Homo sapiens: one gene and its partners. The protein of the gene in region 1 interacts with the protein of each later gene in a biochemical or structural test. Each region holds a gene or a part of one and is shown in the gene's direction. Other genes may lie near its edges. The genes, in order: NEDD4L, UBE2L3, SGK1 and UBE2D1.

The links.
Region 2: the proteins of NEDD4L (region 1) and UBE2L3 form a complex in vitro, tested with the Homo sapiens proteins (11 studies listed by BioGRID, with this or other methods).
Region 3: of the proteins of NEDD4L (region 1) and SGK1, one has a biochemical effect on the other in vitro, tested with the Homo sapiens proteins (5 studies listed by BioGRID).
Region 4: the proteins of NEDD4L (region 1) and UBE2D1 form a complex in vitro, tested with the Homo sapiens proteins (7 studies listed by BioGRID).

Annotation. Positions count from the first base shown.
Region 1 is NC_000018.10:58,039,247-58,047,235, forward strand, and holds the start of NEDD4L (E3 ubiquitin-protein ligase NEDD4-like), read left to right. Parts: upstream 1-4,979; 5' UTR 4,980-5,414; coding exon 5,415-5,462; intron 5,463-6,410; exon of another isoform or gene 6,411-6,542; intron 6,543-6,687; exon of another isoform or gene 6,688-6,772; intron 6,773-7,979; exon of another isoform or gene 7,980-7,989. UniProt on the Homo sapiens protein: E3 ubiquitin-protein ligase that mediates the polyubiquitination of lysine and cysteine residues on target proteins and is thereby implicated in the regulation of various signaling pathways including autophagy, innate immunity or DNA repair.
Region 2 is NC_000022.11:21,591,706-21,598,744, forward strand, and holds part of UBE2L3 (ubiquitin-conjugating enzyme E2 L3), read left to right. Parts: intron 1-1,155; coding exon 1,156-1,251; intron 1,252-7,039. UniProt on the Homo sapiens protein: Ubiquitin-conjugating enzyme E2 that specifically acts with HECT-type and RBR family E3 ubiquitin-protein ligases.
Region 3 is NC_000006.12:134,203,105-134,210,143, reverse strand, and holds part of SGK1 (serine/threonine-protein kinase Sgk1), read left to right. Parts: intron 1-2,712; coding exon 2,713-2,788; intron 2,789-3,629; exon of another isoform or gene 3,630-3,733; intron 3,734-7,039. UniProt on the Homo sapiens protein: Serine/threonine-protein kinase which is involved in the regulation of a wide variety of ion channels, membrane transporters, cellular enzymes, transcription factors, neuronal excitability, cell growth, proliferation, survival, migration and apoptosis.
Region 4 is NC_000010.11:58,366,006-58,371,248, forward strand, and holds the end of UBE2D1 (ubiquitin-conjugating enzyme E2 D1), read left to right. Parts: intron 1-1,917; coding exon 1,918-2,011; intron 2,012-2,714; coding exon 2,715-2,760; 3' UTR 2,761-4,743; downstream 4,744-5,243.

The DNA of each region.
Region 1 (7,989 bases):
GGAGTGCAGTGGTGTGATCTCGGCACACCTCAGCCTCAACCTCCCAGGCTCAAGGGACCCTCCTGCCTCAGCTCCTTGAGTAGCTGAGACTACAGGCGCAAGCCACCAGGCCCAGCGAATTCTTGTATTTTTTGTTTTTAGAGATGAGGTCTCACTTTGTTGCCCAGCTGGTCTCGAACTCCTGGACTCAAGGGATCTGTCCACTTCAGCCTCCCAAAGTGTTGGGATTACAGGTGTGAGCCACTGTGCTTGGCCTCAGGCATTTCTTCATTAATAGCATTGCAAGAATGGCCTAATGTAGCTATTTTTATACAAAAAGATGAGCTATTTACAAGTCATTCTTTGCTACCCACCTCTATATTTGTCAAAAATTTGAAGCATAATATAGATTTCTTATATGATCATAAACGGCTTAAATTTGTTACATTTCTGTGTGTCAAGGAATGGTGCTGAGTTCCAAGATGATACCAGTTTTTACAGGTTTGTGGCCATCTTCGAAATGTCTGCTTAATAGGCCTTCTTTTTAAAGAAGACAAATCATCACTGAAAATTGAAGAGAAAAATCGAGTGTTATTTATATGAAACTTAAACATGTGACATTATGTATTCTTCTTCTTTGGGTACTTCCCAGATGTGATTATGATCTACATAGTTTTGCTAAGACAACTCAATAATTTGTAAAGAGGCTTAGCATTAAAATGTTCCCTATTTGTGATTACCCATTGTACTTTAAAATTGTTCCTGCTAATTTTTCATTTCTGATGATCCAAGTGAAGAGTATTTGCCAAACACCCACAGTATCAAATCTAAGATGCTAAAGGCAGCCTGCAAAGGGAACAAAGGGAAACGAATTCTAGAGGAGACTCTACAAGTTAAGGTTCTATGTAATTGTTGGGTAGATGCAAAACGGACTGGAGGAAACATTGCTTTTGATACACCTGCTGAATAGTTCCCTTTAAGGGTTGTCCTCCCTCACCCCCAAAGAAATTGGATTACTAGGTTGGGCTAGGTGGCTCATGTCTGTAATCCCAGCACTTTGGGAGGCCGAGGCAGGTGGATCACGAGGTCAGGAGATCGAGACCATCCTGACTAACAAGGTGAAACCCCGTCTCTACTAAAAATACAAAAAATTAGCCGGGCGTGGTGGCGGGCGCCTGTAGTCCCAGCTGCTTGGGAGGCTGAGGCAGGAGAATGCCGTGAACCCAGGAGGCGGAGCTTGCAGTGAGCCGAGATCACGCCACTGCACTCCAGCCTGGGCAGCAGAGCGAGACTCCATCTCAAAAAAAAAAAAAAAAAAAAAGAAAGAAAGAAAAGAAATTGGATTACTAATCTGAGACTTCAGAGTAGATGATGGGTAAACTGATTGATGATGCTAGTCTTCTAAGTATGTTTGTTTATATTCTACCTCACTCCACAAAAGATTTGAGTGTGTTTATAACATGCAATTTCCTCTAAGTTGAAAAAAAACGAATGAAAAAACAGAGTGGTGGAAAATATATAAAGAAAAGGCATATAGGCTGGGCTCAGTAGCTCATGCCTGTAATCCTAACACTTTGGGAGGCCAAGGTGGGAGGATCACTTGAAGCCTAGAATTCGAGACCAGCCTGGGCAAGGGAGACCCCATCTCTACAAAAAACAAAAAACCTTAGCCGGTACAATGGTGTGCTCCTGTAGTCCCAGCTACTTGGGAGGCTGAGGTGGGAGGATCACTTGAGTCCTGGAGTTTGAGGGTACAGTGTGCTGTGATCATGCCACTGTTCTCCAGTCTGGACAACAGAGCAAGAACTTGTCTCTCGGGGAAAAGGAAAAGAAAAAGAAAAAAAAAAAGAATAGTAATATAAATCTAGGCCAGATGTCTCTAAACTTGGCAGTGGTGCATTAGGATCACCTGGGGAACTTTTAAAGCTCCTGATGCCCATGTGGCACCCTGTACTAATTAAATCATAACGCCTGGGAGTGGGAGGCAGAGAGGAGCAGTAGTAAAAATTCCCAAATGTTTCTATGTATAGCAAAATTTGGAAACTAAGCTGATGTTCTCAGCCTTAAATGCACATTAGCATCACCTGGGAGGCTGTTGAAACTACTGATGTCAGAATCCATTAAATCATAGCCTCTGATGCTGGTTACCGGGCACTTAGTCTATTTGAAAGCTCCCCAGGTGATTGCAATGTACATGCTGAGTAGAGAACCACAGCACTGGGGGAAAGTTGGTATATAGTTACAAAAGGGATTTTTTTTAATGGGTTCTTTTATGGCTTAAGACCATGAAACTGGTTCTGAGCTTCCTGGTGGCCAAAGTAGATAGAAAAACACAGTCGGTTTTAATAATTTTGGTCATCTGCCATGCAAAAGCTTACCAGTTTCTTGAAAGCAAAAGAGCTTTTCTTCATAGATCTGAAATAAATGTCTAGTTTATTAGTCTTCTCACAGAGGATGTTGATGTCATGGATCACGATTTTATAAACACCCCACAATAAGTGACATATGGCAAGTTTCATATTATAGTTCCTAATAACCATCCCTCAGGGAAAGACAAGGACATGACCCTGAGTGCAGGGCTATAGGCTGTTGCGGTGGGTGTGTGGGAGTAGATGATAAAAGACAGGAAGAGAAACTGCCACACCCCTCTACAGTTTCCAGATAACATAGCCTTACCCAAAGGCGAAGCCTGGAATTGTGTACCTCCAGGATGTGGAAGGCGTGTCCTGTGTAATTAGAAATTATAATTTTCTATCAGCACATTTTAAGAATTATTTATTTATGTATTTATTTATTTAGAGACACAGGGTCTTTCTCTGTCATCCAGGCTGGAGTGCAATGGCACGATCATAGCTCACTGTAACCTTGAACTTCTGGGCTCAAGTGAACCTCTAGTCTTAGCCTCCTGAGTAGCTAGGACTATGGGCCCATGCCACCACACCTGGCAAATTTTTAATTTTTTTTTTTTTTTGTAGGGACAGGGGTCTCTCTATATTGCCCAGGCTGGTCTCGAACTCCTGGCCTCAAATGATCCTCCTGCCTCTGCCTCCCAAAATGCTAGCATTATTATTCAATTACTTTTCTTCCTTTATAATATAAACTGTACAAATTTTACAAAGGTTTGGCTAGTGAGGGTAGGTAGAGAAGCACTGACTCCCATCCATGAGGGTCACAGGCTAGGGCAAGGGCATCTGAGAATGCGTGTGTGTGTGTGTGTGTGTGTGTGAGAGAGAGAGAGAGAAAGACAGAGTGTGCACGTGTACCTTTTGTTTATCAAAAGACTTTAGGGTTGTTTTTTTTTGTTTTTGTTTTTTTTGAGACGGAGTCTCGCTCTGTGGTCCAGGCTGGAGTGCAGTGGCGCAGTCTCGGCTCACTGCAACCTCCGCCTCCCAGGTTCAAGGGATCCTCATGCCTCAGCCTCCCCGAGTAGCTGGGATTACAGGCGCCCGCCACCACGCCTGGGTAATTTTTGTATTTTTAGTAGAGATGGAGTTTCACCACATTGGCCAGCTGGTCTTGAACTACCGATCTTATGATCCGCCCGCCTCAGCCTCCCAAAGTGCTGGGATTACAGGTTTGAGCCACCGTGCCCGGTCTAAAGACTCGAGGTTTGAAAGGGTTGAAAAACCTCAGTATTGAAAGAATGGACAGAAATCTGACTTTTAAATAGTCCTCCATAAATAGTTCTCATTGGGGGTTTTGTGGCCTGTAAGTACTGTGGACTTGACGGCTCAAGACTTCTAGAGAAGGCTTCTGAGTAGGATGTTGACTCCATGGGGCTAAGTCGTCAAAGGAAACCCATTCTACGGCACAGGTTTTAAGCCAGTCATGCTGCAGGAAGGCAAAGGAGAGCTTAAGGTAGCATGGGTGGGCTCTTTTGAAAACGAACTAGCAGGGCGAACAGCAGATATTTAGTTATGTAGCTGGCAACGAGGAATATGATTCCTTCGGGTCACGCGAGTTCTCTCTGAACTTCCTTGAATGAAAATCCTAAATGCATCCTGGTAATACCCAAGTAGGCACTTTGACGTTTCCTTTTCAAAGGCAAATGGAATGTTCTGCGTCTGTTTTCTTTTTGAACTCCCAACTGCACTTAACATCTAAATTTAAGGAAAGGCTTCCGAAAAAGTCGACTGACGAATTTCTTTCACTTATTTAAAGTAGTCTCTTGCAGTCCTATAAATCGGAAGGATTAAATGAACTGCTTGCTAGAGAAACGGTAGCTGGGTGGTGGGAAGAATCCTACGGTGGCTAATAAGACGTCTCGATCATTTGCATATGCAAAGGATAACCTTAAGCTTGAGTTTGATATTTCACGTTGCGGCTCACAAATGAACTGCTTTTTATTCAAAGAACCATGCTGTCTGTTTTCGCGTGGGTGGGTGTGTAACCGGGGCGGGCGCTATGTTGGTTTTGTTCCCTGCAAGGTTGACACAGGCAATGGCGACTTGCGGCCACACTGGGGCAGCCTCTCCTCGGCTGGCAGCCGGGCCGGGCGGCTCGCTCCCGGGAGCTGACAATGTAGCCAAGTCCTGCTCGTCGGGGCCGCAAAGAATTTAAAGGGGTCTAGAAACATCCATCTTTTCCCCTTTTCACAGTTAACAGCGAGCTCAGGGCTCTCGGTAAAAAGACCACCGGGAGGAAGAAACGCTCAGGGCGTTTTTGTTATTGTTCGCAAAATCCTCTATCGCCCCCAAACGTCCAGCCCGCCCCCTCCCTAAAGCGGAGGGAAACCGGGAGAGGAGGGAGGGTCGGCGGCGCCGGCCAAGCGCGCCAGTACACGCCCCTGCGGATCCGCCCCGCGGCCGGGTGACCCCCGCCGCGCCGCGCTGGAGGCCCCGGGCCGGGGTGGGCGTGGGGCTGAACTCCGCCACCCCCGCAGCCCGCGGCCCGCTCGCCAGCCCGGCCTGTGATTGGCTTGGGGGGCGCGTGTGCCCGCCCCGGCGAACGGGGAGGGTACCCTCGCGGCGCCGGTGGGAGGAGGCGGAGGAGGGGGCGGAGAGAGCGGGGGCCCGGACGGCGCTAGCGAGGAGGCGGGCGAGCCGGGTCCCCGGGAGCGCAGAGGAGGCTCGGAGGGGGGCGGAGAGCGGCGGGGCGGGAGGGAGGCGCGGGTCGCGGGGAGGGAAAGCCCGGCCGGGTCTGCGCCGCCGCCGCGCGCAGTGAGAGGCGCCGGGGCTGCCGCCCGGTGCTCGGCGCGCTCTCGGGAGCCGCCCGCCCGCTGGTCCCGCAGCCTTCCGGGAGGAAGCGGTGCCGGCAGCGTCCAGGGCGCGCTCTCGGGCACCCTCACCTGCCGGCGCCCGGCCGCTTACCCGGCAGGGCGTGCGCAGGGTAGGGTGCGGGACCGGGGGGACCTGGAGGCAGAGGGGAGAACCGGCCGTCCGCGCCGCAGCACAGCCGCTGGGAGCGCCTCAGACCCCGCGCGGGGCGCCGGCTCCATGGCGACCGGGCTCGGGGAGCCGGTCTATGGACTTTCCGAAGACGAGGTGAGTGGCACCCCCTTCCTGCTCGGGACTCCCCGGGGAGTTCCTATCCCGCGCCGGCAGGGGGAGGGGAAAGGGGCCGTCCCCGGGGTGCTCGTGCCCAGCGTCTGCAGGGGAGCCCCAAAGCGGGAGCGCCCCGGAGCGGGATCCAGGGGAGCTTGGGTCCTTCCGCACCCCCCACCCTCCGCAAGCCGAGCTCATTGTTTGTAAATAAAGCGGCGCGACGCCCTTGGAGCTGGGGGTTCACTCCGCAGCTCCTCGCTTTCGGGAGGAGAGGGAGGGGGCATGCGTGCCTCTCTTCCCTCTTCCTCTCCAAGCAGCGTCTCCCGGGGCTGTTGGGCAACTTTCCGCCTCTCGCCCCTGCAGCCCGGGAGTCCATGATGCATGTCACGTCTGGGTCGCGCGGCTGGAGACCCGGGACTGCGGAGAAGCCGGATCGTTTCCCCCTGGAACTTTCTCTCTCATGATTGTGTGGATCAGCAGGCGCTCAGAAGCCTGTGCGTGCTTATCCCGGCGGGAATGGGGGACACGCTGCGTGTGTCCCTCCCCTCGTTTTGCAAAGTCTACGGCCAGGATTGTGGATTTCGGAGCCTCGGTGGGGGAGGTGTTCAAGGCTGGTGGCAGGTGCTCCTGGAAACTTGGGGAGGAAGCTTGCAGCCCTGCCATTTTTTCCTCCCGAGGATTCAAAGCCCGGCACCTCCAGGGTGGGTGGGGAGAGGAAAGCTTAATTGATCTCTTTTATTAATAAAGCGACTGAATAAGCCACGCCTCCCAGGCGGTCGGTTTCACTGGAAAGGGCTTTGTTTTTACCTTCATTCTCTCTTCCGTGTCTCCCACTCCCCCCTTTTGAAACAATCCTGCTAAATCACTGCCTAGTCCTCTCTCGACCAGCCACGCTCGGCTCTTATTGGTATGTTGCTCTGCCAAAAAGGGGGGTGGGACGCTTGTCGCGGGCGCGGCGTGACAGGCAGGCTGGATGGAGCAGGTAGGAGTGGTTTGCCATCTGGCGGGGTGCGCGCTCAGGTCTGGCTCCCCTTTCGAGAGGTGAATTTTACAACCCAAGAAGCATTACTCAGCAGGGAGGTATTTCCTATCCTGGTTGTGCATTTCATGAAAAGTTGATGCCTGGAAATTCAGGCGTTCTCGATTTCTCTTTCTTCCCCTCCCTCCTTTCTTTTCAGAGGTTCCCTCTTTCTCTCGTGTTGGGGGTGGGGTTGGAAGAAAGGCTATTATCTGAGACAGGCTCGCGTTATGGCTCCGCTTTCTGCGGCTCTCCTACCCTGGCATGGTGTGTGTGTGTGCCTGTGTGCTACGTAAGTGTGGAATGAAAGGTATTTTGGGGTGGGAAGGGTGTTTAGGGTATGAATTTTTTTCTTAGCGGTGCTAGGCAAAGCTTGATGTATTTATTTGATCAAAGAATGATCACAGTGCAAATAATGTGTGATTTGTGTGTTTATTTTGCCTCGCTGTGCTTTTGTAAAATAATTTCCCGTTTTGTGTAACTACCTGGGGATAGGTGACAGTAGCATTGTTTCATTGACCCGGGGGGCTTCTCCTCTCCCTCCTGGCTTCTCTCTTTGAGGAGCTTTCCCTTGCATCCTCTACTTCTCCATTTAATTAGTGGCAGTAGAGGGCAGGCCCTGAGTTGCAGAGACGCAGACATTCCTAAACAAAGGGGCTGCTTGGGTTGACGTATTGTGGGGGGTGGGGGTGAGGACAGCTGCATTTCATCCTAGGTTCTTTTAAAAAATGTTTTAATAACATGATTATTTGTAAAAACTCCCCCGAAAAAACGATTTTAAGAGTGTTTTGGGAAGTGCAGCTGGATAAATGAAACACGTTAATGTCACTGTTGTTTGTGCTTTATTTACATTGGCAGTGAGTGTCAGAATCTACCTAGAGCACATCTTGCCACTTTTGTCCACAGGAGTCACTACTAATCATCATAACTGATGTCTAGTGTGAAAGTGAAGCTTGGAATGTAAACAGAGTCCGAGTGTGTGTTGGCATGTGACTGGATTCACTCCTGCATGTTGCTAGAAGGGAATTTGGGGCTGTATAGGAAATAGCAAGAGGTGATGAAGACACCTTTTATTATCTATTTATTGCCATGTCGCTGGTAGTATTTAGTTCCACACACATTGTATTTCACAAGATGAGTCTCAGCCGTCTTCCTTTTTCAACTTTCTCCTACCAGTGAAAAAATAAGCCAGGGCAGTTCTGATGACTTCACATTTCATTGGTATTTGTTTTTCATGGGCAGTTTCATGCTGTCACGTTGCCCTTCAGAGAATCAGGGAATGCCTTCGTAGAATATTAACGACAAATTGTTGAATTTGCACAGCTTGTTTTGTCTCCCTGAATTAGTATGTGTAAGAAAAACCAATGGAAGATTTTAGCAGGCTCTGAAAGTAGAATGCCCGCTGAAGCAAACGGCAGGGTTGTTCTTCCAAGGCGTATTAAATATGGGTACACTTAGTTTGCAGACTTGGTGTGCTGCAGAATATCACATATGAAGATATTTTGACCG
Region 2 (7,039 bases), on another chromosome or scaffold:
GTGAGTTGAAGTACCACGTAAGGAGGTTCTGGAGGGTGCTGGAGCTGGGCCAGAGGAAGCAGCCTGGCGAAGGAGGCAGGGCTCAGCTGGATGGTGCTCGGGCTGCAGAAGAGAAGGTGCCTGACAGGTGTGGAGGCGGCTTTTGTGCCACTGGATGGGAGGCCGGGCTGAGGCGGGTAGAGTGGCACTTCATGTGTCAGAGTGGAGGAATGTTGGCGAGGCTGGTGTTCTGGCAGGAGGGCATTGCTGGGTGGTTTGGGTTATAGCGCCTGCCAGGCATTCACTGAGATGTTGGAGGCAATGGGAAATGTCAGGCTGGTGCACAGTTGAAAAACAGGTGACAGACAGTTCTGAAGACATCTCAGGCAGGACCCTGAAGTCGTAAAGTTGTGCTTTCTGGGTGAAATGGCACTTGCTGCATTGACTGTTTATACAACAATAACCCCACATATTTGCAAGGGGTCCTGTTGCCCACAACATGGCTTCCCTTTCCTTTTCTGCACTCTGGGTCTGTTTTGCAGCTGAGGAAACAGGCTCAGTGAAGGTTTCCCGTCCCCACCCCCCCACTCCCACCCCAGTCCCAGACTGGATGGTTCTCTTTGCTGTGTGCCCATGTTGAGGTGGAGTCCTTCTGAAATCACACTTATAGCACTGGGTAGAAAACTGGATATGCGTTTGTGTCTGGTTTGTTCCCAGTCCCCAGTTTTATTCATCTTTAGCTTCTCAGCATCCGGTGCATAATCAGTGCTTAATGAATCTTGATTGGAAGGTATCAGGTGTAGAGCACCTCAGGATAGCTCCTGCCACATGTCTGCCCTATGCAGGGTGCTGAGGGATTTAAACAGCCATGGTGACCAACCCAAAGAGGAGGTGGTACGTCTGCAGAAGCATGGTTCCCCCTGTCCTATTCAGGGGGGTTCACTGAGGTGGGGGCTTGTCTTGGTCTGGGGCATGGGGAGAGGCAACAACCTTGCAGAGGGGACCGCCATGGCAGCTCCATGCCTCCTTAACCACTCCAAGCACAGTTTAGTCCTCACTGTCCAATTTTGTCATTAGCATTTTTGGCACTTGGTTTAATTTGAGGGCATCAGGAGGGATCTTAATATGTGGTGCTTTCCCCTATTTGACACCCCTTTATGCTTTGTCAATCAACAGGAGCTTGAAGAAATCCGCAAATGTGGGATGAAAAACTTCCGTAACATCCAGGTTGATGAAGCTAATTTATTGACTTGGCAAGGGCTTATTGTTCCTGTGAGTATTGAACACTTCCACTTCCTACCAGATTATTCTTTAAGGTGATGTGTGTGCTGTTGGGCTTGTTTTTCTGCTCCTTAGTAGGCTCTTAGTCTAGGCAGCCAGCAGATGCACAGAAGTGGCTGTCGCTCTAGGGTGATAAGGTAGGGAGTGTAGCCTTGGGTCCTGAGTAGAGTCACATCTTGGCACTCGTTTTGTCAAATTCAGGGAGTCCTGAGCTTTGCAGATCTGTAGACACAGAGAAAAGGAGTGTGTCTGTGCTCCTGCTCTTTCCTGACTTCCCTGCGCCTGGCCTGATGGATCAGCAGGACCTTCTTCTCTGAGCTCCTCAGGAGGGGACAAGCATTCCCCTCTAGATATTTTGCTTTCTCTCTTGGTTTTGCATTCATGTCTCTAACCCTTTGGATACCTGTATTTCGGGCTTTATTCCTGGTCCCCTCCAACCTGTGCCTTCCATTTGTCTCAAGTCCCTTTTCCTAATTGCCCACATGTTCCCCTCACCCCATGTCTTTTCTGGGGCTTATGCCTCCAGTGTCTGCCCCCACAGCCCAGCTCCCCCATCTCACAGTCTTCTGCCTTCTGATGGGCTCAAGGCCCTCCTAACGATGGCTTTCCTTAGCACCCTCTTAGTGCCTACTCTTTTCTGCATCCTTTGATCCCCTCCCCTTCAAGAGGCTTGTCTTATAATTAACTCCAGTTTGCAATCCCCCTTCCTCTCACTCTCCTGAAACCACGTCACACCCAGCCCACAGGCTGCCCCCACTGTTGTCACACCTCTAGCTCGGCAGTGCTGGCATCATGGCCCTTGCTTGCCTCCTGAGCTTTTGGAGCACGGGCAGCATTCCAGCCCCCAGTCCTGTGACCAGCCTGCCACTCGCTCCTGTTCTGCCACTCCTTCCTCCTCACTCTTAAACATGACTCTTGTTGGTCTCCTGCTGTTCTCCTGTTCTGTTTTGTCTCGGGACCCTACTACTTTCGGCATCATAGATGATTATGCCAGACATGAAGGATTCCCACACCTGTCTCCATTCCTGCCTTCTCCCCGGAAGCTGCACCATCTGTCCACCAGGCGGCCTCACTTGGTCATTGTGTAGCCTTCAGCTACCTCAGCTCACACCCTTGTCCTGCGTGAGTGCCCTCCTTTCCTGTTCTTCCTCATCCACTCACCTTCTCTGTTCCTTTTCATTCCCACTTTGCACATCTGAGCCTCTGGCCCTTGCCCTGTGCCTGCCGCTGTCCTGTATATAATTTGTTCTCATGGATGGATTGGCTGCTTTGCCAAAGCAGAGCATGGAGCATGCTTCCTCCTGTAGATGCTTCTTCCTGATGCTGGTTATAAGGTCATGAGCATGGAGCATGCTTCCTCCTGTAGATGCTTCCTCCTGTAGATGATTTCTCCCTGTAGATGCTTTCTTCCTGATGCTGGTTATAAGGTGAGCATGGAGCATGCTTCCTCCTGTAGATGCTTTCTTCTTGATGCTGGTTATAAGGTGAGCATGGAGCATGCTCCCTCCTGTAGATGCTTTCTTCTTGATGCTGGTTATAAGGTCATGCTTTTTTTTTTTTAAGTCCCTGAATTTGATCAGCAGTTATTGGATTTGTAGTTTATTTCCATAATCATTTGGATAACTAAGGAAAGATATGCTTTGTAATGATTTAGTATGCTCAGAATGTTTAAATCTGGGAGCTTCCAGTCTGATTTTGAAGATGAGTCCTTTAGATTTCTTTAGGCTTGATGGTGTTAGGGCTCAGGGCAAAGGGTGTGGGTGGCAGAGACACCTCTGCATGGGAGGGGTTGGCCTGTGAGTGCAGCCCTTGCCTACTCTAGGGACCTGAAGATGGCCGGGACCATCTGACCTCTTGTCCCTTTTCTAATTGAGATTGTGTAGTCTACTGAGCAAAGAAATGAACAGTTAATCTGTGGCTCTTTGGAAAATGATAAAAATGAATGGAATGGTTTTAAGTGGTAAGGCTTGGGCAGTCTGGCCCTGAGAATTTAGTGGCCTGAGAGCCTGCTAGCCAGCTCCACGGGTAGATTGCTGCTGGGCATGCTCTGCCCCAACTCATGCAAAGGCCTCCCTCTGGTTTCACGCTGGCAGGGGCTATGGAGCAGTGGGCTAAGATCTTACTAGGGCAAAGGTGGAGGCTGGCTGGTAGAATCCAAGTGTGCTTGGGCTGAGGCTCTGGGGAGCTATCCAGGCCAAAGTTTCACCTTGGAGACGGTAAGCAACAGCCAGGGCTGCTCTTGTCCCTGTGTATACCACTTCTTCTCGGTCCTCTCCCTTGCTTTCTTCCAGGGCCCCTGGGTTTGTATGAGGAATGTTTCAATGAAGTCTTCTTCCTTCTCCAGAGCAGTTAAGGCATTGTTGACATCTGACATCCCCAGGGTCCACACTTGTACCCCAACCTGGGCTTTAGGTCTTCCTGCATTGGACGGGCTGGGCCAGCATGGGAATCTACTATACAAACTCACCTGAGGTCTGCCCAGTTGGGGTAAAAGTAGAGCCAGGCCGATGAAGGCATGGCAGCCCAGCCCTGGTCCTTAGTGGAGAGTGGTGCTGTCCTTGGGTAGCCACCTAGCGATTGCCCTGGTCGTAGTGCACAGAGGAGGGCAGGTGGGAGGGAAGGCTGGGGAGGTACTTCCTAGAGACTTCATTGTTGCCAACGCAACTCTGGTCTATTCCCTTTAAACATTTGTTTTTCTGTAATTTTTTTTCATCTAAGATGCTAAGGTAACGTCTAAGGAAGAAAATATTACCCATAATCACATCATCAAGAAATTCAGTTACATTTTGTGTACTGCCCTTTAGGAACTAGAGGTGTGGTAGTCACCCTTCTTGAAGCTTCTAGCCCAGTGAATGTGTTTACTCTTAACCTTCAGCATACTTCCTCTCAGCCTTTTTTCATGCAGTTTCTTTTTTTTCTTTTTAATTGAGTTGGAGTCTCGCTCTGTCGCTATGCAGTGGCACGATCTCGGCTCACTGCAACCTCCGCCTCCCGGGTTCAAGCGATTCTCCTGCCTCAGCCTCCCAAGTAGCTGGGACTACAGGTGCGCACCACCACACCCCGCTAATTTTTGTATTTTTAGTAAAGACGGGGTTTCACCATGTTGGCCAGGATGGTCTCAGTCTCTTGACCTTGTGATCCACCCTCCTCAGTCTCCCAAAGTGCTGGGATTACAAGCGTGAGCCACCACGCTGGCCTTCATGCAGTTTTTAATAAACCATTTCATAACTTCATAATAATGTTTTGGTTTTTTGAGGCAGGGTTTTGTGCTGTCACCCAGGCTAGGGTGCAGTGGTGTGATCATGGCCCATTGCAGCCTTGAATTTCTGGGCTCAAGCAATCCTCCTGAGTAGCCAGGACTACAGGTGTGTGCCACCACACCCAGCCAATTTCTTTTTATTTTATTCCATTTTATTTTATTTTTTGAGACAGTCTTACTCTGTCACCCAGGCTGGAGTGCAATGGTGTGATTTTGGTTCACTGCAACCTCAGCCTCCTGGGTTCAAGTGATGCTTATACATCAGCCTCCCGAGTAGCTGGGATTGCAGGTGTGCACCACCATGCCCAGCTAATTTTTGTTCTTGTTTTTGAGACAGAGCCTTGCTCTGTTGCCCAGGCTGGGGAGTGCAGTTATGCGATCTCGGCTCTCTGCAACCTCCATCTCCCGGGTTCAAGCAATTTTGGCTAATTTTTGTACTTTTAGTAGAGACTGGGTTTCTCCATGTTGGTCAGGCTGGTCTCGAACTCCCGACCTCAGGTGATCCACCCATCTCAGCCTCTCAAAGTGCTGGGATTATAGGCATAAGCCATTGCGCCCATCCTGTAACGTCTTAAATTTCCACTACAAAGGTTCCAGTTCATCCACATCCTTGCTAACATTTGTTATTTTACTTTTTTTTTGTTTTTACGTTACAGCCATTCTAGTTGGTATGTAGTGCTGTCTCATTGTGGTTTTGATTTCTGTTTTCTTCATACTAAGGATGTAGAACATGTTTTTGCATGGTGTGTTTTTTGTTTTTTTGTTTCTTTTTGAGACAGGGTCTCACTCTGTTGCCCAGGCCAGAATGCAGAAGCACAGTCTCGTCTCACTGCAACCTCTGCCTCCCGGGTTCAAGTGATTCTCCCACCTCAGCCTCCCGAGTAGCTGGGACTATAGGCGTGCACCACCACACCTGGCTAATTTTTGTATTTTTTGGTAGAGACAGGGTTTTACCATGTTGGCCAGGCTGGTCTCGAACTCCTGACCTCAAGTGATCTGTCCGCCTCAGCCTACCAAAGTGCTGGGATTACAGGCTTGAGCCACCGTGCCTGGCCTGATGCACTAAAGTTTTAAATTTTTTAATTTAATTTTTATTTTTAGAGAAGGGGTCTTGCTCTGTCATCCAGGCTGGAGTGCAGTGGCTCAATAATGGCTCTCTGCAGCCCCAGACTCCTGGGCTCAAGCAGTCTTCCCAAGTAGCTGGCACTATAGGCACATGCTGCAACCCCCAGCTAATTTTAATTATTTTTTCTGTAGAGATGGAGTCTTGCTGTGTTGCCCAGGCTAGTCTTGAACTCCCAGGCTCAAGTGGTCCTCCTGGCTTAGCCTCTGAAAGCTCTGGGATTTACAGATGTGAGCCATCACACCTGGCCTTAAATTTTTAATAAAGAAGTCCAATTTATCTATTTTTAATTTTGTTGCCTATACTTTGGTTTGATTTTTAAGACACTGTTGCCAAATCCAAGGTCATGCAAATTTTCCTGAGTTTTCTTCTAAGAGTTTTATAGTTTTAGCTCTTAAATTTGGATCTTTGATCCATTTATATGTAGATTTTTTTTTTTTTTTTTTTTTTTTTTTTTTTTGAGACAGGCTCTCGTTCTGTTGCCCAGGCTGGAGTACAGTGGCATGATCATGGCTCACCACAGCCTCAACCTCCCAGGCTCAAGCGATCCTCCCACCTCAGCCTCCAGAGTAGCTGGTACTGAAGGCATGAGCCACCACGCCCAGCTAATTTTTGTATTTTTTTTTTTTTTTTTGTAGAGATGGGGTTTTGCCATATTGCACAGGCTGGTCTTGAACTCCTAGACTCAAGTGATCCGCCTGCCTTAGCCTCCCAAAGTGCTGGGATTACACCACTATGCCCTGCCTCATTTCTTATTTTAATAATATGAGTCTTTTCTCTTTTTCCTTTTATCAGTCTAGCTAAAGTTTTTTCAATTTTGTTGATCTCTTCAAGGAAGGTTTCATTAATGTGTGTGTGTGTGTTTTTCATTTATCTCCTCTGTGCTTACTATTTACTTCTTTCTTGTGTTATTACTTTCTTTGTTCCTTAAAATATCCAGTTAGATTATTGATTTCAGACTTGCTTTTTCAATGTAGGTATTTAAAGCTGTAGATTCCCTTTGAGCACTACTTTTGCTGCATAACTTAAGTTTTGGTATGTCATTTTTTTTTCTGAGGATATTTTCTAATTTCCCTTGTGATTTCTTCTTTGACCCATTGCTTGTTAGAGAGTACGTTTAATTTCCCCATAATTGTGAGTTTTCTAGTTCTGTTATTGATTTCTAGTTCCCTTTCCTTCTCCCTTTCCCTTTCCTTTTTTTTTTTTTTTTTTAAATAAATAGAGATGGGGGCTGGGTGCAGTGGCTCACACCTATATTCCCAGCATGTTGGGAGGCTGGGGTGGAAGGATCGATTGAGCCTAGGAGTTCAAAACCAGCTTGGGCAATATAGCAGGACCCCGTCTCTATTTTATTAAAATAATAATAATAATAAATGGGTTCTCCCTGTGTTGCCCAG
Region 3 (7,039 bases), on another chromosome or scaffold:
TCTTGGCTGTTGTGAATAAAGTTGTAATGAACATGGAAGTGAAAATACCTCTTTGAGATCCCAATTTCTCTGATTTCCACATATTCTTTGATACTGGTCCACAAGAGAAGGAGCTTGTACCAGATGGTAAATTCATGCACTGCTTCCTTCGTCAATAGAGCTTCACAGGCCTGGCACGGTGGCTCATGCCTGTAATCCCAGCACTTTGGGAGGCCAATGTGGGCGGATTACCTGAGGTCAGAAGTTCAAGACCAGTCTGACCAACATGGCAAAACCCCATCTCTACTAAAAATACAAAAATTAGCCAGGCGTGGTGGAGCACGTCTGTAATCCCAGCTACTATTGAGGCTGAAGCAGGAGAATCACTTGAACCCAGGAGGCAGAGGTTGCAGTGAGCCGAGATGACACCATTGCACTCTAGCCTGGGCAACAAAGCGAGACTCCATCTCAACAAAGAAAAACAAAAGCCTTGTTATAAAGAGAAAATGTCGGTGAAACTAAACAATGACCTTAGTGTCATTCTTGAGTATTTTGATTATTGTTGCAATGGAAGGAATTTATCCACTAAGTAGTTGATGAAACTATAGAATATTTGCAGTAATCAAATGATCACATTACAAAATATATATAAATGGAAAAGCAGTTTTAACACTAAGATCTATATTTAACTTCATGAGAATATATTTGATTGTTTGTTTGTTTGTTTTTTTGAGACAGAGGCTCGCTTTGTCGTCCAGGCTAGAGTGCAGTGGCACGATCTCAGCTCACTGCGGCCTCTGCCTCCCGGGTTCAAGCGATTCTCCTGCCTCAGGTTCCTGAGTAGCTGGGATTACAGGCATGCGCTGCCATGCCTGACTAATTTTTGTATTTTTAGTAGAGACGGGATTTCAGCATGTTGGCCAGGTTGGTCTCGAACTCCTGACCTCAGCTGATCCGCCCGCCTCGGCCTCCCAAAGTGCTGGGATTACAGGGGTGAGCCACCACGCCTGGCCTGAGAATATATTTGAAAGCTAATATCACAGTAGTATAAAGCTGTCAAAAACATGGATCACTGCTGCTCTGTGGAACTTGTTATATGAAATCTATTAATTGTATCTGAGTACAACCACTATGGAAAACAGTATGCAGATTCCTTAAAGAACTAAAAGTAGATTTACCATTTGACCCAGCAATTCCACTACTGTGTATCTATCGAGAGGAAAAGAAATCATATACGAAAAAAACACGTGTGTGTGTATATATATATACACACACATACATGTATGTATATGCATATATACACATACATGTATGCGTATGCATACACACATACATATATATACATGCGTGTATGTGTGTATATGTATGTGTGTGTGTATATCTATATATACACATATATATGTGTATATATATATATACGCATACATGGAATACTACCCAGCCAAAAAAGAACAAAATAATAGCATTTGCAGCAACCTGGATGGAATTGGAGACCATTATTCTAAGTGAAGTAACTCAGGAATGGAAAACCAAATATCATATGTTCTCACTCATAAGTGGGAGCTAAGCCATGAGGACGCAAAGGCATAAAGAGGATACAATGGACTCTGGGGACTCAAGGGGAAGGGTGACAGTGGGGCAAGAGATAAAAGACTACACACTGGGTACAGTGTACACTGCTTGGGTGTTGGGTGCACCAAAATCTCGGAGATTACCACTAAAGAACTTATCCATGTAACCATACACCATCTGTTCCCCAAAAATCTATTGAAATTTTTTTAAAAATGAAAAAATACCTGACAGAAAATGCTCAATAAATATTATTTATCATTAAAAACATGTATCTGCACTAAGAAGAGCCTCTAAGTGGACTAAATAATACATATTGCATATGTACATGTGCTGCTATTTGAGAATATAAAGATCCTGTTATGATTATAAAATAAGAATGCAGGCCAGGTGCGGTGGTTCACGCTTATAATCCCAGCACTTTGAGAGGCCGAGGTGGGCGGATCATTTGAGGTCAGGAGTTCGAGACCAGCCTGGGCAACATGGTGAAACCCCGTCTCTGCTAAAAATGCAAAAATTAGCCAGGCGTGGTGGCACACGCCTATAATCCCAGCTACTCAGGAGGCTGAGGCAGGAGAATCGCTTGAACCCAGGAGGCAGAAGTTGCAGTGAGCTGAGATTGCACCACTGCACTCCAACCTGAGCAACAGAATAAGACTGTCTCAAACAAACAAAAAAAGCATTTAAAGTGCTACTGAATTAAAAGTAGCTTTTAATTAATATGTATTTTCCCAAGCAATATGTACTAAAAGTATCATTTCTGTTATGTGGAGATTCAAACACTTTTTATGTATTGAGTGTCTACACTGATAAATTTGCTAATAATCCAGGGCCTCTTCATACGGCTGTGCAGTTTGTGCACTGCACATAGCACTGGGTGAGCTCCAGCGCCCATGTGCTAACCCAGCCATCAGCCCAGTGAAACTGCTTCATGTGTAAGGGGACCAACTGTCCCGGTTTGCCCAGGACTAAAAGGCTTCCCAGGATATGGGACTTTCAGTGCTATACCCAGCACGGTCCTGAGAAAACCACCCTAATTAGAGCACAGACATGCCATATGTACTAGTTTCAGCCTTGGAATCCTTTCTCTAGAACTATAAGCCTAAAATAGCTGAAATGATGAAGCCATTTTTATATCACTTCTTTTCTCTTTATGTTTTAAAGGTGAGAGAGCCATGTAATCATGCCAACATCCTGACCAAGCCCGATCCAAGAACCTTCTGGACTAATGATGATCCAGGTATTATTGGAAAAATACAACCTGTTTCCTGTTATGTACAGGATACATTCTGTAGTAAAGCTCTACACAAAGGCAAGGTTTGGGGGGAAATATTTTTTTGTTTGTTTGTTTTTTGTTTTTTGTTTTTCTTGAGACAGAGTCTTGCTCTGTTGCCCAGGTTGGAGGGCAGTGGCGCAATCTCAGCTCACTGCAAGCTCCGCCTCCCAGGTTCACGCCATTCTCCTGCCTCAGCCTCCCGAGTAGCTGGGACTGTAGGCGCCCGCCACCATGCCCAGCTAATTTTTTTGTATTTTTAGTAGAGATGGTGTTTCACCGTGTCAGCCAGGATGGTCTCGATCTCCTGACCTTGTGATTCGCCCGCCTCGGCCTCCCAAAGTGCTGGGATTACAGGCGTGAGCCACCGCGCCCGGCCTTGTTTATTTATTCTTACCTAACCCAACACTCGAATACACTGCAATTAATTTTTTTTTTGTTTTTTTTTTTTTTCTGGAGACGGAGTCTTGCTCTGTCGCCCAGGCTGGAGTGCGGTGGTACGATCTCGGCTCACTGCAACCTCCACCTCCAGGGTTCAAGCGATTCTCCTGCTTCAGCCCCCCAAGTAGCTGGGACTACAGGCATGAGCCACCATGCCTGGATAATTTTTGTATTTTTAATGGAGACAGGGTTTCACCATGTTAGCCAGGCTGGTCTCGAACTCCTGACCTCAGGCAATCTGCTGAGCTCGGCTTCCCAAAGTGCTAGGATTACAGGTGTGAGCCACCATACCTAGCCTTGCAATCAATTTTACCCTAAAAGTCCTTTTGTTATGTCTTCTTTTCAGTATCTAAAACGTATATACTAGATCCCTTTGTCGTTTATAAGTGTGATGATTGGGTTTTCATGTTCCTGTGTGAGATATGCCTCCTTCAAGCCTTGTTATGATGTCTGCACATTACCTGCCTGTCATTTAAAAAAAAAAAAAAAAAAAAAAAATATATATATATATATATATATATATATATATATATATATATATATCATCAGGTACAGCTTTGTGGATTGTGAAGCATATTTAAGTGTTGGGAGGAATGAGGAATGAGTCTATTTGCTGGAGTAGAAGACAGAGGAGTTGAATAAAGTGGGCAAACACATGAGTCCAAGTTTGTTTTCTAGGGCAAGGAAGAGATTTGAAAACCTAGGGTGAATCATACTTCAGAATACTTATGGGAGGGCATGTATACTTGCACTATGATATTAGGGCTGTACATCTAATCAGAATCAGAAGAATGCCACTTTATGAGATCGGAGAATATGCTTCAGGTTATATGATTAGAAATTACGCTTAGACAAAGAGTAGGGTATGTTCTCATAGCAAATAGAAGACATTTAAAAATTCTTTTTCACAAACACACATGAGCCGTGAGGCCTAATTGCACAAAGTAGACACTAGAAATAAAAGGGAAGGTGAAGCAAAAAGGAGCTAAAACAATTAAGAGAGTGATAATAGAGCTTTCACCTTTTCTAATGAAATAGGTCTAATGAAATAGAAAACTCACGCTGATATCTGATATTTGTATTATGCCTCACGCTTTTACAAGGAGTATTCACAGAAATCTAATGTAGTGTTTGCCGCAATCCCTTGAAATAGGAGAGACAGCCCTTTCCTTGTTATGCCTCTATTAGAAATGAAATAATAAGCTGAATAGGTTAGCTGACATATCCAAAGCTCGCAGCCAGAAAATACCAAGGCTAGGAGAATGGAGAGTGGACTGCCCAGTTCTATAGCACGCTTCTTAGGAAGAAGCAGCTCTCCTAGCAGAAACAGCTTGGGCTAAATCTGTGCTATAATCTGTTCTTCATAAAAGGGAGTCAGAGGCTGTGCCTATTAGCAGAAACAGGAGGACTTGAGAAGGAAAGTGAGAAACTTTCTGATGGCTTTTTTTTTTTTCAAAGACCAGACTTACGGTCTAAACATTATCAATTTCATCTGTCAAAAAATTGTTTTCTGTCTTGTTTTATTATATCTTTTGAAGAAAGAAGAAAAAACATAAAAGTGAATTAGCCTATTTATGCCATCATTTCAGTCCATCAGCAGTATACCACCACAATAAACAAGCCATCTGCTGGCTAATACTGCTAGTAAGATCTACAGCACATGTGTTATGAAGAAGCAATGTAGAATGAAACATTACCAAAGGAACATAAATGATTCTTGATGTTATGTAAAGAAAATGGAAAGGGAGGGAAATCTGTACAGGACAGGTCTAGAAAATGGTGCTTGACCAGCAGCCCTCAGGACTGCTCTATCTGTGAAGCAGCTATTCTTTATTCCTTTACTTTCTTAATAAACTTGCTTTCACTGAAAGAGAGAAAGAGAGAAACAGAGAAAGAAAGAAAGAAAGAAAAAGAAAGAAAGAAAGAAAAGGAGGGAGGGAGGGAAGGAAGGAAGGAAGAAAGAAAAGAAAGAAAGAAAAAGAAAATGTTGCTTGGACAATTTTTGAAGCCTAAATAAATTATGTTACGGGCTGGGTGTGGTGGCTCATGCCTGCAATCCCAGCACTTTGGGGGGCCAAGGTGGGTGGATCACCTGAGGTCAGGAGTTAGAGACCAGCCTGGCCAACATGGTGAAACCCCTTCTCTACTAAAAATACACAAATTAGCCGGGAGGTGTGGCACGTGCCTGTAATCCCAGCTACTTGGGAGACTGAGGCGGGAGAATCACTTGAACCCAGGAAGCAGAGGTTGCAGTAAGCCAAGATTGTGCCATTGCATTCCAGCCTGGGCAAAAAGAGTGAAATTCCATCTCAAAAAAAAAAAAAAAAGTTACAAGAAAAACTAATGCAGAACACATAGAGAAATAGGAATAGAAATATTTCAGACTTACTCTTTTTTTTTTTTTTTTTTCCTGAGATGGAGTCTTGCTCTGTCGCCCAGGCTGGAGTGCAGTGGTGCAATAGACATACTCATTTTTAAAACGTTTTTATTACTTTTCCTTCATCAGTAGTGTTACAAAGAATGGAGTGTCCCTCCTACAAGAGCTCATCTCATGAAGATCCTTCCCAGTCACCAACTTAACCAACTCATAAAGTAGGATCTATGTCTAGAGTAATTATTTATTTATTTATTTATTTATTTATTTATTTATTTATTTATTTTTTGCCTAGTTGGTCAGTCCATTACTAAGAGTGTTTTAAAATCTCCACCTCTAGTGGTAGAATTGTCTTTTGGTTCTTTTAATTCAGTCAATTTTTGCTTTATGTATTTTGAACCTCTGTTATTAGGCACATATACTTTTTTTTTTTTTTCTGAGGTGGAGTTTTGCTCTTGTTGCCCAGGCTGGAGTGCAATGGCATGATCTCGGCTCGGCTCACTGCAACCTCTGCCTCCTGGGTTCAAGCAATTCTCCTGCCTCAGCCTCCTGAGTAACTGGGATTACAGGCACATGCCATCACTCCCAGCTAATTCTTGTATTTTTAGTAGAGACGGGGTTTTGCCACGTTGTTCAGGCTGGTCTCTAACTCCTGACCTCAGGTGATCCACCCACCTCAGCCTCCCAAAGTGCTGGGATTACAGGCATGAGCCACCGTGCCCAACCACACACACATCTTTATGATTATTATTATTTCCTAATGAACTGATCATTTTATCATTAGGAAATTTCCTTCTTTATCTCTGGTAAAAGTCTTTGTTTTAAGTCTATTTCTTCTGATAGATACAGCCAGTCCAATCTTCTAAAGCCTACTTTTCACATGGCATATTTTTCTTTCCATTTTCTTTCAACCTGTGTCTTATAGTTAAGGTGCTTATCTTATAGACATCATGTGGTTAGATTTTCCTCTTAAAATCCTATCTAATGATCTCTGTTTTTTTTACTTGTGATGTTTAGCCCCTTTATACTTAATGTAATGACACAGTTAGATTTAACTTTACTGTTTTGCTATTTGTTTTCTATATGTCCCTTCTCTTCTTTGTTTGCTTATTCTTCCTTTCCTGACTTCTCTAGGATTATTTGAATAGGTTTTAGAATTTAATATTAATTTACCTGTTGACTTTCTAGTTATCCTCTTTGCATCACATTTTCAGTGGTGCTCTGAAGATTACAATAAATGACTTTATTTTTATTTTTATTTTTTTGAGACAGAGTCTCACTCTGTTGCCCAGGCTGGGGTGCAGTGGCACAATCTTGGCTCTCTGTGACCTCCACCTTCTGGGTTCAAGTAATTCTCCTGTCTCAGCCTCCCAGGTAGTGGGATTACAGGCACGTGCCACCAC
Region 4 (5,243 bases), on another chromosome or scaffold:
TACAGTATTCATATAGATTCTCATATTCTTTTAAGAATCTTTCACACAGTGTAACTGTCATGCATTAGATATATGAAAGATTCTGTGTTGAAGGGTTAATTCAAGTTCATACGCTGTTTCCTGGAATGGTGTCACAAAATGGATCTCACTTGGCATATAAACTGCCAAGTCCTTATACATATAAAAGAAATGGCAAACTGCCAGATATTGAGTACTTATATTCTGACATTGGTAGCCTTTTATAAAGAATCAGTAGTGTTAGATTCTGGAAACCATCCTGTGAGAAATGAAACAGCCTCAGTTTCCTTATAAGTAAAATGGGGATTCTTATAGTGTTACCATACAGGGTTGCTATGTACCTAGCACATAGTGGGCACTTACATGAATGTTAACTGTTACCCTTTTCCTTACCTTAAAGGATAGACATGGTTTGTGTGCATGATAGTGAAACTGGGGCAAATGGCTCCTGGCAGTAGGGGTGAGCAGAGGAGGAACTTCCTTCTTGCTTACTTTTTTATAAGATAGATCATACCTTGCTCATTTGTTTGTATATTTTTTACTTTGCTATATTTTTTTAAATTTTTAATTTGTTTATCTTAAAAGATTGTTTTTTAATTAAATATAGACAGAGTCTTGCTGTGTTGCCCAGGCTGGTCTCAAACTCCTGGCCTCAAGTGATCCTCCTGCCTTGGTCTCCCAAAGTGCTGGGATTATAGGTGTGAGCAACCTTGCCCAGCTTATTATTTTTATTTTTTTATTTTTTGAGATGCAGTTGCTGTGTTGCCCAGGCTGGTCTCGAACTCCTAAGCTCAAGGATTCTTCCACCTCAGCCTCCCAAGTAGCTGGCATTATAGGCACATACCACCATTGCCTGGAGCTTTTCCATATTTTAAATGTCTTCTTTTGCTTTTTATCATGAGGTTAGTCTGGAAGCATTCTGGGGCTGTAAGTTAGCCCTGAAAATCTGCCCTGTTGGTTTAATATACAAGGCTTTTAAGTTTCATTGGGCAGATAGAAGATAAGAAAGATGAATAAAATACTAATTTTTTCTTTAGTTCATAACACCCCCCCACCCTTTGCCTGTCATTGTAAGAGTCAACTCTGCTCTATAAATCCACCTTTGGACTTGAAAGAGTACGAAAATAGAAAGGAAACGCAGTGGGGTGGGTGCAAGTGGAAATGGGAGGTTGGTCCAGAGGTTCCATGAACCTCCTCAGAAGTGGTGGCATGCAATTGAAGCAGACAAATGAGGAACCAGAGTCCTTGTTCCCTCTTATTTCAGATACTTAGATCGTTAGTGTGTGTGTGTGTGTGTGTTAGTGTAGCTATTTGCATTAGAATTTTGACATACTGGAGTAACAACTACTTTTTCAATTTTCATTTCTTTTTTAAAATATGCAAGCTATATAAAGATAGCTGTTCACATTATTTTTAAATGCATGCAATACAAATAAACTACATTAAGTAAAGATTCATTGAAAAAAATTTTACAAATTTTTCTTCTTTGTAGACAGACTATAGCTCTAAGCCAAAGCAAAAGAGTGTATGAGCACAGTATCCAAAATGGTTTGGACTGTTAACTGTAATTTGATTGTTCTGTAGAGAACTCTCAAGTTTAAAGGTTGTTAATAGCTACTTTGGAGGGTCACATTTTTTTAAATAAATGGGAACTCGGAATTTAAAACTTCAAAAGCTAAAATAATTTTATATTTTATGCATCCTATGGTAATTTTATAACTTTAAAAATTAAAGATCAATTTGCTATCAACCAAAGTAGAATAAAATATAATTTGATGTGTTCATTTTATGTTTTTTTTATAAGTACAGTATCTATATTCACTAAAATTATTTTCACATATGTAATTTGTATGAAGTAGAAGGGTTATTGTCTAATGTGATGTTCTCTTTTAAATCTAGTTTTATTGTCCATATGTTCTCTACTTTGTGATCCTAATCCAGATGACCCCTTAGTACCAGATATTGCACAAATCTATAAATCAGACAAAGAAAAGTAAGTGTTTACTTATTTTAGTTTCTGTATGGATACATTCCTATATAGTATGCCAAAACACGAATATTATCAATATGTTTTAAGTCAATTTGATTATGGTTGTTATATGTATATTGTTTATCTTTTTCCAATGGAGTAAACCTTTCTTTGAGAACTCTGTTAGACCTTTTATGATAAATCTTGTTCCTTCCCACTTACTGTTCAATAGTATATACTCTGTATTTGAAAAATAGATGTATATATTCTAGGTGATAAATTAAAAATGAAAGAATTTAATCATTGGAAAGTATTAAATATATATTGCTTATCTTCTCCAAGGAAGAGGAGTTCTCTCGTACCCATCCAAACTGACCTAATTCTCAAGCTGCTTCATCTTGCTAGTACTGTAGGTTCATTTGCAATTTGTAGATAATGCTCCTTCAGGATTGGCTTTTGTAAATTTCTGTTAGAAGCTGGTTTCTGCATTTTGATTTTTGTGTATTTGGATACATTTTCATATAGGTTGCAGAGAAATCCATGAGTTAAAAAATTATTTTTCCTGTTTTATTTCTGCATGAACCTAAGTCACATTGACCCAGTAATTGATATATGTGTGATTATTGCAATTAAGTATAAGAAGGTAGAATATATAGTTTTATTAGACAGATGCTTCTGAAATATTAATTTTGTATGTTTTTACTATATCCTTTTTGTGTATCTACAGATACAACAGACATGCAAGAGAATGGACTCAGAAATATGCAATGTAAAAATCAAAAACATTTTCATATATACCAGAGTACTGTAAAATCTAGGTTTTTTTCAACATTAGCAGTAAATTGAGCACTGTTTACTGTTTCATTGTACCATGAAACCATTTGATTTTTACCCATTTTAAATGTGTTTCTGAAGCAAGACAAAACAAACTTCCAAAAATACCCTTAAGACTGTGATGAGAGCATTTATCATTTTGTATGCATTGAGAAAGACATTTATTATGGTTTTTAAGATACTTGGACATCTGCATCTTCAGCTTACAAGATCTACAATGCAGCTGAAAAGCAACCAAATTATTTTTTGCTGAAACTAGATGTTTTTACATGAGAAATACTGTATGTGTTGTCTAAGATGTCAGTTTTATAAATCTGTATTCAGATTTCATTCTTTGTTAGCTCACTTTATAATTTGTATTTTTTTACTGTATAGACTAAATATATTCTATTTACATGTATGTCAACTCATTACTTTTTTCCTGTGAACAGTATTGAAAAACCCCAACGGCTGATAATTAAGTGAATTAACTGTGTCTCCCTTGTCTTAGGATATTCTGTAGATTGATTGCAGATTTCTTAAATCTGAAATGATCTTTACACTGTAATTCTCAGCATACTGATTATGGAGAAACACTTGTTTTGATTTTGTTATACTTGACTTAACTTTATTGCAATGTGAATTAATTGCACTGCTAAGTAGGAAGATGTGTAACTTTTATTTGTTGCTATTCACATTTGAATTTTTTCCTGTATAGGCAATATTATATTGACACCTTTTACAGATCTTACTGTAGCTTTTTCCATATAAATAAAATGCTTTTTCTACTATTTGTCTTGATTACTTAAAAAAATAAAAATATAAGTAAGGATCAAAACTCTAAAATTTTGCATGAAAATTACATCCAAATTGTGAAAATCAGATCTATTTTGTTTGCCATTAGTCACCATTAGTTATATAAATTTTATTGTTTTAGGTTAGTATCTCTTTACTAAATTGTCAGTCTATAAGATAATATATGTTGATCCCTTGCTGTAGAGGAGAATTTAGAGTAATTTGGGGTTTGTCTTGGATTATATCTAAATGGATTATTTGTTAAAAGTACTGAAATGAGTATAAGGCAGTATCACCCATCCAAAAGAAAGGTCTTTATAGACCTGCACAGTCACTAGATTAATTCATTAAAATGCCCCCACCCTGATGTAATTGACATTACATTTCTTAACATTTTAAAATCTAGAATTTCTAAAATGGAATTTAATGCCATCACAATTTGAAAAACTTTTTTTTTTTTTTTACTATAGAAGTTACAAAGGAAGTTCTAAAATTATGCCTCCCTCTGTTTTTATAAGTTGCCATCGAAAAGTGATTTAAATAAGCAGGTTATCTTTATAGATTTTAAAGAAAACTAGAAAGTTTTAATGTTTTAACTTGGGGAAAAATACATCTCTTTAATGTTTAGCATGCTTGTCAACCTTGAGTGAGTGTCATTTTTAAGAACAGTTGTAGCCCTTCTGATTATTGCAGTAGCTGTAGAAGTATGTAAGAATATGTGATGGGTGTAGTCATTAGCAAAGCATTTAAATCACTTGAGTATTTTGTCATGGTTCATTATTATTAAAGCACAAAATAACCTATTGTTAGAAAATATGTGTTTTTATAAATGAATGTAAAATAATTAAATGAATTGTGAAATGGATGTTTAAGAAAATATAGGCTTAAAAAGTAAATCTATAAAATGATGTCTTAAAACAGCCATATCATGAAAAATTCTACTTAGCTATATTATTATAAGCTACATTTGCCCTGAATTTGAACACTCAACATCACTAGATTTAAATATTTAGTATATTTTGATAGTAAAGGGTTTTGTTTCTTGAATATCTTCACTTTAAACAAAAAAAAAAAACAACTTTCATTTGTGTGGCATTTATTTTTGGAAGTGTCTTCTTTTTTTTCTTTATTAAAGTTTTTGAAACTTGCCTAACTTGTTTGCCTTTGCTTACATCTGGATTGTACTGGACTTGAGGAGTAAGCAGAAGTTCTCATAATTAGCTAAAAACCTTGAGTTCCATAGTGGCGTCATGATCGGTCAGAACACCATTTTGGGTATATTATTTTTGCTTAACTCTAACAAGGAGAACATCAGTTACCTTTTAAAACTGTAGAATAAAAGTCAGGGCCTTTTGTGGATTAAGCATTAATTTAAGGACTTCCTTGGAGTGAGAGAAATAGGTAGTCTTTTGGGGATTTAGGATCCCACTTCTTGAAGTTGCATAGTTGAAAACCATGTTCAAATTGGATTCTGAACGCTTATAACTGCCATATACAGCAGTTACCCACATCAGTGACATGGGTTGTAAGGGGCAGCCTCACCACCATCCTCCAACTATCTCAAAAGCGTACAATTCCTGAAGTACAAGCTTTACATATATGCCTCCGTCAACCTTATTTATTAATTTTTGCATTATTTCCCTGTTTC